Linked DNA regions of Homo sapiens. The protein of the gene in region 1 interacts with the protein of each later gene in a pairwise test. Each region holds a gene or a part of one and is shown in the gene's direction. Other genes may lie near its edges. The genes, in order: CHCHD2, MIF4GD and LHX4.

Region 1 (3,600 bases):
AAATAAAGCTTTGTTTTTTACAAAAGATTTTTATATAATTCACCCTTTTTATTGTTTGAAATCTTTTTATTTCAATACTTTTGGGGGAACAGGTGGTGTTTGGTTACATGGAAAAGTTCTTTAGTGGTGATTTCTGAGGTTTTGATGCACCCATCACCTGAGCAATGTACACCGTACTCAACAGTGTAGTCTTTTATCCCTTACCCACCTAGCACATCCCTCCAAATCCCCAGAGCCCATTATATCATTCTTTTGCCTTTGCATCCTCATAGCTTAGCTGCCACATTATTCACCCTTTAGTTCCAAGTACATTCTGCTGTTGCTGGGACACAGGAAGGCTGTTTTAAACTCTACTTCCTCTGATGGAAGGGAGAAATTTCTGATTGACATCAAGCAGAAATGGTTCCATGTGTGCTTCCTCTCCTCAATAAACCTCACTCCAACCGCAAGGGACTTTCCCATGAGCCCCTTATGAAATGCCACTAGCCAAATTTCCCCTTATTTTAGCGATGTTTAATGTAACTGTTGAAAGCATTTCAGGCTGGGCCTGGTGGCTTATGCCTGTAATCCCAGCCCTTGCAGGCCGAGGTAGATGGATCACCTGAGGTCAAGAGCTCAAGACCAGCCTGACCAACATGGCGAAACCCTGTTTCTACTAAAATAAAAAATTAGCCAGGCGGGTTGACGTGCGCCTGTAATCCCAACTACTCGGAAGGCTGAGGCAGGAGAATCGCTTGAATCCGGGAGGCGGAGGCTGCAGTGAGCTGAGAACGCGCCACTGCACTCCAGCCTGGGCGACAGAGCCAGACTCCGTCTCAAAAAAAAAAAAAAAGCATTTCACACCAAGTATCACTAAAGCACAGATCCTTGGGGCCTTTGCAATTGCTGTTCTCTCTTCCTGTAGTGTTCTTATCTTCATAAACACATGGCTTGCTTCCCCACCTCTTCAAGGGCTCCGTTCAAATGACTCCCCCCCGCCCCGCCTAACCTCTAATTTCCAGTCTCCTTCCTCTCTTTTCATGTCACCACCACCTGATTTACGTAGGCGTTTGTGTCTCCCCTCCTTGAAACTTAACTTCGTGAAGGTAGAATCTTATCTGATTTGGTGCAGTATCTCCATAACCCAGTTAGACAGTAAATTTTTGTTGAATTTACCAGTGTATGGTTACTGTCCCAATTCTGGACACAAATTCTATAATACATATGAAAAGGAGCTGAAAATATATAGTAATACATAAATGTAAAACATTATTGCTGCCTGAATTTAACTTTTGCTGACTGGATCCACAGACAAGAAAGAGAAATACCAAATACAACTAATTCAACTCTGTTTATTTTTGACGAAACCGATTTCTTTCATTCAGTTCATACTACGCGTCCACACTGTGCCTCCAAAAATATTTGCCCTTATAACTGAATGCTCAGAAAGGCTAAGAAATCTGCCCAAGGTCCCCTGGCAATCCAGCCAGAGATGTGAGTCACTCTTAAGGTTGGATTTAATACAAATGTTTGAAGGACGGAGCGACAGGCCAGCTGCCCTAGGGAAGCAAAATGCTAAGTGCTCTGATGCGAGGACCGGAGGACAAGGTTCGCGGATGAACCACAGGAACTTCCGGGTTTTAAAGATCCTGGCGCCAAGTTCAGGGCGTTGACCGCGAAGGACGAGGCGTCCCCGTGACGTCCTGCTCTTCCAATGAACTTCAGGCCTGCGGAGACGACGGAGAACGGAAGTTCTCTGCCTGTGTGCTGGTTGGTTGCGCGTTGAGGCCAGCCCCGCCTCCCATCTTCCGGTCTCCTCAGAAGTCGCTTAGCTCTTCGGTGGTTGTCCCACGTCCGGAGGCCTAGCCGTCGCTTACCTAGGATGCCGCGTGGAAGCCGAAGCCGCACCTCCCGCATGGCCCCTCCGGCCAGGTGAGACCATCGCAGGGTTTGAGACCAAAGCGCGGCCGTCCGGACTCTACTGGGGCAATGACGCAGAGGGAGGCCGCGGGCGGGGGTGAACTAAGGTCGGCTGCGGCGTGGGCTCGCCTCTGCCAGGCGGGGGTAGATTGAACGTAAAGCCTATGTTAGGGGAGTGTGGGGAGGGAATTCACTTACGGAAAAAGCTTCCTATCCAAACAACGGGAAAGGCATAACGTTATGGCCAGGTGGTAGGAAGGCATAAATTTTGACCTAGCTTGATTTCGGGGAAAAGAGCACCCAAGGAAATAATCCGGAAATGGTCAGAGGGAGCGTGATACATATGAAGATTTTTAAATACGTGCAGGACATAATTAGTCTTTTGTTATTTGAGAAGGGGTCTCGAAATTGTTGAAAGCATCTGAACGTTGAACAGATGAGGAATAGTTGAAGTTGCTTTTGGTATAATAGTTCAGACGAGTCACTTTGGCCAGTCTTGTTTTGTAATGTGTAAAATGAAGGAATTGGACTAGATTATTTCCCCAGTTGACCATCTTTAAGTCCTAATTAGAATGTTTATTTATTTATATTTTGAGTCAGAGTCTAACTCAGGCTGTAGTGCAGTGACGTAATTATGGCTAACTGCAGCCTTGACTTCCTGGGCTCAAGCTATTCTACCACGTCAGCCTCCAGAGTAACTGGGACTACAGGCATGCGCCACCTGTGCACCACACTTGGCGACTTTATTCTATTTTATATTTTAGCAGAGACAGGGTCTCATTATGTGGCCCTGGCTGGTCTCAAAGTCCTGGCCTCAAATGATCCTTTCGCCTCCACTTCCCTAATCACTGGGATTACAGGCAAGAGCCACCACTCCGCAGCCTATGTTAATTATTTGATCCGTCAATAAAATGTAAACTCCATGAATGCAGAGATTTTTGTCTCTTGTTCACAGTTACATTACCAGCGCCTTGTAGTTACCTAATACTTGAATGAATGAATCCTGTAAGAATCTTTCTAACTTTTAGTAGTCTGTATTTCTTATGACATGTTGGATATGTCTTTAAAGATACTGTGGGCTATCCGAATACATGGAAATTGTTGCAAAGAAGCAGAAAAAACTAGTATGTCCTAGGCTATTACTATTATAAGAAAAGATTAAAGTGGCCGGGCGTGGTGGCTCATGCCTGTAATCCCAACACTTTGGGAGGTCGAGGCGGGTGGATCACTTGAGGTCAGGAGTTCGAGACGAGCCTGGCCAACATGGTGAAACTCCGTCTCTACTAGAAATACAAAAATTAGCTAGGTGTGGTGGTGCGCGCCTGTAATCCCAGCTACTTGGGAAGCGGAGGCAGAAGAATCGGTTGAACCCAGGAGGCAGAGGTTGCAGTGAGATTGGATCGTGACACTGCACTCCAGTCTGGGCATCAGAGTGAGGCCCTGTCTCAAAAAAAAAAAAAAAATTAGGCCGTGCGTGGTGGTTCACACCTGTAATCCCAGCACTTTGGGAGTCCGAGGCGGGTGGATCACCTGAGGTCAGGAGCTGGAGACCAGCCATGGTCACCATAGTGAAACCTCGTCTCAACTAAAAATACAAAAAATTAGCCGGAGGTGGTCGCGGGTGCCTGTAATCCCAGCTACTCGGAAGGCTGAGGCAAGAGAATCGCTTGAGTCTGGGAGGTGGAGGTTGCAGTGAGCTGA
Region 2 (2,728 bases), on another chromosome or scaffold:
TCTCTTTCACTTCAAGCATATGAGTGCTCTACTGTAAATATCTCAAATTCTTAGAAGCGGGTGGACACAAATGTGATAAAGCAGCAGCTCTAGACTCCCCTCCTATCTCTACCCCTAGATCCGGGTGCTGTGGACTTGGAGAAAGTGGCCAATGTGATTGTGGACCATTCTCTGCAGGACTGTGTGTTCAGCAAGGAAGCAGGACGCATGTGCTACGCCATCATTCAGGTTGGGGGTTGGGAGAGGAAAGGAAGCTGCTTTGAGGAAGGTGCTTCAGGAGTGGGCAGAAGGCCTGGCCTGCAGGACAGAGATGCACAGGGTCTAGCTCAAAGAGAGAGAGAGGCATAGGATGGGTGGGGTTACAGGGGCACCGCCCCCCACCCTTCACCTTCCTCTCCCTGGCTCACAGGCAGAGAGTAAACAAGCAGGCCAGAGTGTCTTCCGACGTGGACTCCTCAACCGGCTGCAGCAGGAGTACCAGGCTCGGGAGCAGCTGCGAGCACGCTCCCTGCAGGGCTGGGTCTGCTATGTCACCTTTATCTGCAACATCTTTGACTACCTGAGGGTGAGGCCCCGGCAGCCACCCTGGGAGGCAGACATGGCCTGTTTCCTGAGGCCCAGGTTGGACTGCTCCCCTTGGCCACTAAGCCTGGTGCTCTGACCCCTCCTCTTCCTCACAGGTGAACAACATGCCCATGATGGCCCTGGTGAACCCTGTCTATGACTGCCTCTTCCGGCTGGCCCAGCCAGACAGTTTGAGCAAGGAGGAGGAGGTGGGTGGCCCCAGCCCTGGCACAAGCACAGAAGGCTGCAGGATGGACAGTCCAGCTCAGCCGTGTGTCAGCCCACTGCTCACGGAGGTCTCTGAGGACTGTGTCACTTCTGGGGCAGGACTGTGGGGGTGTTTAAGGCCTGTCAGTTATAGGACAAGCTGCCAGGTCTGGAGTTTATCCAATAGAGAGCAGCCAAAACCTACTGGCTCAGTAGCTTCCTTCTCAGTCAGAAAGCCAACGTATGATGGCAGCTGTGCAAGCCATGGCTAGCTGTGGGTACAGACGGCCCCAAAGCCAAACCAGGGTCAGGCAGTGTGTGGGAGGCAGGAGAGTGGGATGAAGAAGTGGTTTGGAGACAGGCTTGAGTGGAGCCTGGCCAGATGAGGGACCTCAGGCAAGTCCCGGAACTCATTTCTTTCTGTGTAAGATGTGGAAGTACCCACTGGATGGTAAGGAGGGAGCAAGGGAATGAGTGTAAAGGCAAAGCACAGCACCTGGCACTTGGCAAATGCTGTGTGAGAGGCTGGCACTGCCCCAGTTCACTTGTGTTACCCACACTGTCGCCTGCAGGTGGACTGTTTGGTGCTGCAGCTGCACCGGGTTGGGGAGCAGCTGGAGAAAATGAATGGGCAGCGCATGGATGAGCTCTTTGTGCTGATCCGGGATGGCTTCCTGCTCCCAACTGGCCTCAGCTCCCTGGCCCAGCTGCTGCTGCTGGAGATCATTGAGTTCCGGGCGGCCGGCTGGAAGACAACGCCAGCTGCCCACAAGTATTACTACAGCGAAGTCTCCGACTAGGCCTCCAGATCAGGGCTTCCTCACCAGCACTGGCCTTTCTTCTACCCACCTCTAAAGCTGGCAGTGGAGTCTCTGCCTCACCCAAAGACTTTTCCCTTCCAGACTTTGAGTGTCTTCCCTTCTAGACTTTCCCATCTCCTGGTGAGATGTTTCCCACTTATGCCGTGGTCCTGCCCTGAGCCCCTTTCCCCACCACAACCCACCACGGCCAGGCAGAGAAGGGCAACTCCCAAGAGCCACTGCACTGTGTAACCATTAGTGCAACTACTACCTTGGTGCCTCAGTTTACCCATCTGTAAAATGGGTAAGCATAGCCACTGGTGGGATATTTTGGGATGTCAAGGGGTGGAGGCAGAGCACAAGTCACACCAGAAACTGCTTTTTATACATTTTGTATAAGGACAACTCTGGAAACAAGCCTATTTCCTCCAGCCAGTTTCACTGAATGCTGCACCACATGCTACACCAGTTCAGCGTGAGAATTTTCTAATAAATCTTTTCTGATACTAAAACTGCTTCCTTTATATATCCAAAGGTCCGCCCCAACCTAAGGGAAGAGAAAACAGCCCTGAGTTTCCTGGAGGAAATTCCCAAGTCAATGTGCTCCCTCTTTACAAGGAAATAGGGGCAGAGAGAGCAAGTTCCAGCCTCAAAGAAAGAAGGATTAACGGATAGTGAATATGCTGCTACATCTTTCTTACGAGGCCTGCCCACCCTTACAAAGGAACTACATCCTTAACCCACAGGTAGTTTTCAGCGTGGCAGTAGCTCACACTGTTTCTTGCGGCAGAGGGCCCTGGGCTCCTCCTGGAGACTCTACCACCAGCGGTAGTGGGCCAGGGCACGGTTGGCCTCTGCCATCTTGTGCAAGTCATGCTTCCTCTTGATCACGGGGCCCTGGTTATGGAAAGCCTCCAGCAGCTTGTGTGACAGCTTCTCCGGCATCAGTGTCCGCTGGTGCTTTTTATCCCGGCACTCAGTGATCATCCACTTCATGGCTAGGAAGCGGCGACGCCGGTCGGGTAGGGGTACAGGGACCTGGGTGAGACAGGACATAGGCAAGTTGGTCCAAGAGTCTGCCAGGGTTTGGGGCCTCCTGCCTCCCTGAATTCTAAGGAGTAGCCACATGTTCCCTCTGGACCAGCCCTGGTCAGGCC
Region 3 (3,824 bases), on another chromosome or scaffold:
TGGTAAACACTAAAAATGTCACTGGGTTCTTTTGCTTTTTTCTTCTTGTGTATATTGTCTCGCGCGCGGAGTCACCTCGCAGGTAAACAAGGGAAGAGATGATGCCAACCCAGTACCAGGACACACAAAAGTCACTGTGACCTCATTGGAGACAAATTCTAAGCAGCGCAGACGACCAGGCCATTCTCCCCCGCCCCATGCTCCTCCCTTAAAGGTGAGCAGGTGTCCCTTGTTTGGAGATGACACCAGGGGAAACAGCAGGGAAGGTTCTGGAAGGCTGGGGAGGGCACACAGTCCCCCTTCCCGCCTAAGCTGAACCCCACTAGGCTGGAAGGACACGTATGTCTGCATTTCTGGAAGGAAATGCCGTGGGGGCTGGGGGCAGGAGAGCGGCTGGGTCTTGGGGCAGACGGGGTGGGCTTCCCGCGCCTGCAGCCCGGAGGCGTCGAGCGCCTGATGGAGCGTCAGAGGAGACCTCGTCCCAGCGTTGGGCCTTCTGTTGTATTTCTGCCAGAAACTCGCGTTGAGGAGAATTTGTTTTAAGCGTTTCTCTACCTGTCCATGCATCTCGTAAATACAGTAAGCATGGCAAGCCCTTTCGCTGGTTAACCCCGGCGTCCGTGTGCTCACTGCCGCCCTGCACGCACGAGGTCGCGGATGGTTCAAAGCACCCGCGGTGGCAGCCGGAGAGGCAGAGCGGGCTCTAGGGACCTAAGACAGGGCCGAGCTGGACGACTGGTGGCAGGGCGGCCGGGGAGGCCCCGCCGCGGGGAGGTTTGGGCCCCCTACCCTGCGGAACTGGAGGCAAGTGCGGACTCCGGCTGCAGGCCGCGGTCTGCGGGGACGCGCGCGGGGGGCCTGCGTCCCGCCACCTCCGCGCACAGCCCCTGGTCCCCTTCCCCAGCCCGGGCCGGCGCCGCCCGCCGCGTGACTCGCGCGTTCCGGGCCGAGTACGGGCTGTCCCTTGGCCCAGCCTCAGCCAGACGCGGGGGAGAGAGAGCAGGGGCTGGGAAGTGCCGGCAGGAAAGGAATTGGCCAGGGGAAAGAGGAGGAGGAAGATAGATGGAGTCATCGGTTACGGAGCGCGCTCCGTCCGGCGGAGCGAAGCCGGGGACCGAGAGCGCGCAAGGCGAAGACACAGCGACGCAGCCCCGTCCCCGGCCTCCGGACCGCCTGCCCCGCTCGGCCCCGGCTCGGCTCCGCCCCGCCCCTGGGTCCGAACGGAGGAGTGAGGAGGACACGAGCCGCGCGGGCTTGGAACCCACGAAGACCCGCAAACCCAGGGCGCCGCCGTCTCCGACCACCTGCTGCCGCGGCAGGCCATCAGCAGAATTTATACCCAGGGCGCGAGCCCGCCACGGCTGGGCGGAGGCGGAGGCGGAGGCGGGGAGGGGGGGGGGGTGCCGGCTTGCGAGGCCCCGCCCCGCTCCCTGCCGCCCCGCCCCCCTCCGCCCCGCCGGCCTCACTCGGGGCGCCGGGACCCCCACTCCCTCCGGGGTCGGCTGCCCGCCGCCGGGTTGGGGGATGTGCCGAAGGGCGGGCCTCCCTGCGGAAAGCGACGTCACGGCCGCTCCTGCAGTGTGAATGAATCAAAACGCCCGGGTGACCGCGGCCTCCCGGGCGGCCGGCACGCGAAGGGTGGAGGGGGAGGGGGAAGGAGCGGGCGGGGGAGGGAAGAGGAAAAAAGCCAGAGCTGCAGCAACAGCGTCTCAACCTGGGATGTGCACCAACCCCGGAGAGCGAGATCAAAGGGACTGGAAACAGACTGGGGACTGGCGGGGGGAGGGGGCCGGCCAGCCTGTGGAGTCCTCCCTGAGAAGCGGAGGGCCCGGCTTCCACCGTGACTCCAGCGGCCTGCTTGGGGTTTTAATTATTATTTTGAAATTTCTGAATCGAGCTAGAGCGAGAGAGCGAGAGATCTCCGTAGACTGCGACTCGCTGGCTTTCGCTCCGAGATGATGCAGAGTGCGACTGTCCCCGCGGAAGGGGCTGTCAAGGGGCTCCCGGAGATGCTAGGTGTGCCGATGCAACGTAAGACACCCCCCTTTCTCGCTGATTTAATTCTAACAAGACAGCTAGCAGCCTCAGCCGCTGCGGGGCGGGCCGGACGCCGCTCAGGGGCCGGGAGGGGCTGGCGGCCGGGGCGCAGAGGCGGTCACAGGGCAGGGGCACCAGCCAGAGTGCGTTTGAGGGGGCCAGGCTCTTGGCTGTTTGGGGCCGAATGTGAACGCCTCCTGGATCATGCTTGAGGCGAGCCGAGTACCGAACCCCGCATCTCCAGCCCAAGGCTTTTCTTGGAACGCTGGGGAGAGTGCTGTTTGGGGACACCCAGGGGTACGAGCTGTAGGCCAGGCCTGAGGGCGAGGGTGGTCCCCACAAATCTTCTTTCGCCGGCGTGACGGTCAGCGCTTGCAGGACCGCTAGTGCAACTTCACCCCAGCTGGCGGGAAGTTGGAGAGCGCGTCTCTCGCCCCTGGGGCTGGCGGCGGAGAAGCCCCGGCCACACTCTTAGTCCCTGCGGCCCGCGCCCCGGGCGTGCGTGCCGGGTGAGTCCCCAGCCGCTACTGCCCGCGGCGCCCGCCGCGTGCGCCGCGGGAAACTGACTGCTCCTTGTGAGGGAATCTGCTCGCGCATTCCAGCTAGCCTAGGAATGCAGGGGAGGGAGAAGCGACCGCAAGTTGTGAATTCCGGGTTCAGCCTTTGCGCACGCGAGGGCAGGTGCTCAGGGTGGCTCGGGTTTGGAGGGGTAGAGACGGGGGTGTGTGGGAGCTTTGCTAGCCTGCCCGCCCGCTTTCTTCCCGCGCCCGAAATTAGCGAGACAGCCGGAGCTCGCGGCGTGTTTATCCCCAAGTCTCTCTCTGTGTGTATGGGTGTGCGCGCGCAGAGATTTTCCCGAAGGGAATCCGTCTCTGTGCTTCACTCCTGAGCGAGAGTCCCCGAGAGGGAATCTGTGCAGAGGCCAGAACAGGTGCCCAGTCGTCGCGCGCGCGCGCGCGCGCGCGCGACAAGCGCCGGGAGAGTCCTGCCCCTGTGGCTTGCACGCTCAGCAGGGCGCCCCGGGCACCCTGGAGAGACCAAGGAGTTCCTCGCTCCGCTTGCCAAGGGGTTGTACTTCCGCCTGCGACTTCTTTAGTGGTGCGGTAGCTACATCTTCGGGGTTTACTTTAAGTAAGGGCCGGCTCATCCAGGGATGGTGACTACCTACAAACTAGGGCGCACGAGCGCGCCCTCCTGCGCCTCGGGTTTCCATGGCAGGGTTTCTGTCCGGCGATCCTTCGGAGGGCAGGCGTACCGTAGGCTTCCCTGGGAAGTTTTTGAGAAGGGACTAGAAAAGAATAGCTTCATCCAAGCCTATTTAGATTGTTTCTTGGCTGTATTCTACAGTTATTCTTTGAGTGTTTTCGTGTCAACTGCCGGCAATCAGTTCCACGTCTGTGTTGAGCCTTGGGGAGTTTACCGCTAAGATGTTTTCATAGAAGGCATTGGAGATTCACTACGCCCCACACCCCGCACACAGGCAGGGACAGAGTGGGTTCTCAGCCCCTGCAAAGACGGAAACAGAAACCCTGCAAAGGTGCACCGAGTCCTTAAGCTGCTTGTAGCTCTGCGCGAGTGAGGAGACTGCATGAGTGGGGGAAGGGTGTGTGTGTGTTACTAGTGTCCTTGGTACCCAGTACGTCTGTGCTTTCATGGCTGTGGTCCGTAGGTGACCTGTCTGTTGGGACCCCAATGAAGGACGATGGTCTCTGCTCTGACGGCCTTTCTTGTGATGAGTGACACTCTGATTGTCTCACTTTTTGCCTTCCCTGTTCAGAGACAACTTT

Evidence for each region.
Region 2: the proteins of CHCHD2 (region 1) and MIF4GD interact in binary tests that used the Homo sapiens proteins (3 or more experiments, as listed by UniProt).
Region 3: the proteins of CHCHD2 (region 1) and LHX4 interact in binary tests that used the Homo sapiens proteins (3 or more experiments, as listed by UniProt).

The regions. Positions count from the first base shown.
Region 1 is NC_000007.14:56,104,675-56,108,274, reverse strand, and holds the start of CHCHD2 (coiled-coil-helix-coiled-coil-helix domain-containing protein 2 isoform 2 precursor), read left to right. Parts: upstream 1-1,798; 5' UTR 1,799-1,861; coding exon 1,862-1,911; intron 1,912-3,600. UniProt on the Homo sapiens protein: Transcription factor. Binds to the oxygen responsive element of COX4I2 and activates its transcription under hypoxia conditions (4% oxygen), as well as normoxia conditions (20% oxygen).
Region 2 is NC_000017.11:75,265,583-75,268,310, reverse strand, and holds the end of MIF4GD (MIF4G domain-containing protein), read left to right. Parts: intron 1-118; coding exon 119-228; intron 229-409; coding exon 410-565; intron 566-680; coding exon 681-773; coding exon of another isoform or gene 774-860; intron 861-1,343; coding exon 1,344-1,571; 3' UTR 1,572-2,083; downstream 2,084-2,728. Other genes in the region: MRPS7 (small ribosomal subunit protein uS7m), read right to left, coding at 2,388-2,609. UniProt on the Homo sapiens protein: Functions in replication-dependent translation of histone mRNAs which differ from other eukaryotic mRNAs in that they do not end with a poly-A tail but a stem-loop. May participate in circularizing those mRNAs specifically enhancing their translation.
Region 3 is NC_000001.11:180,228,575-180,232,398, forward strand, and holds the start of LHX4 (LIM/homeobox protein Lhx4), read left to right. Parts: upstream 1-1,689; 5' UTR 1,690-1,955; coding exon 1,956-2,031; intron 2,032-3,824. UniProt on the Homo sapiens protein: May play a critical role in the development of respiratory control mechanisms and in the normal growth and maturation of the lung. Binds preferentially to methylated DNA.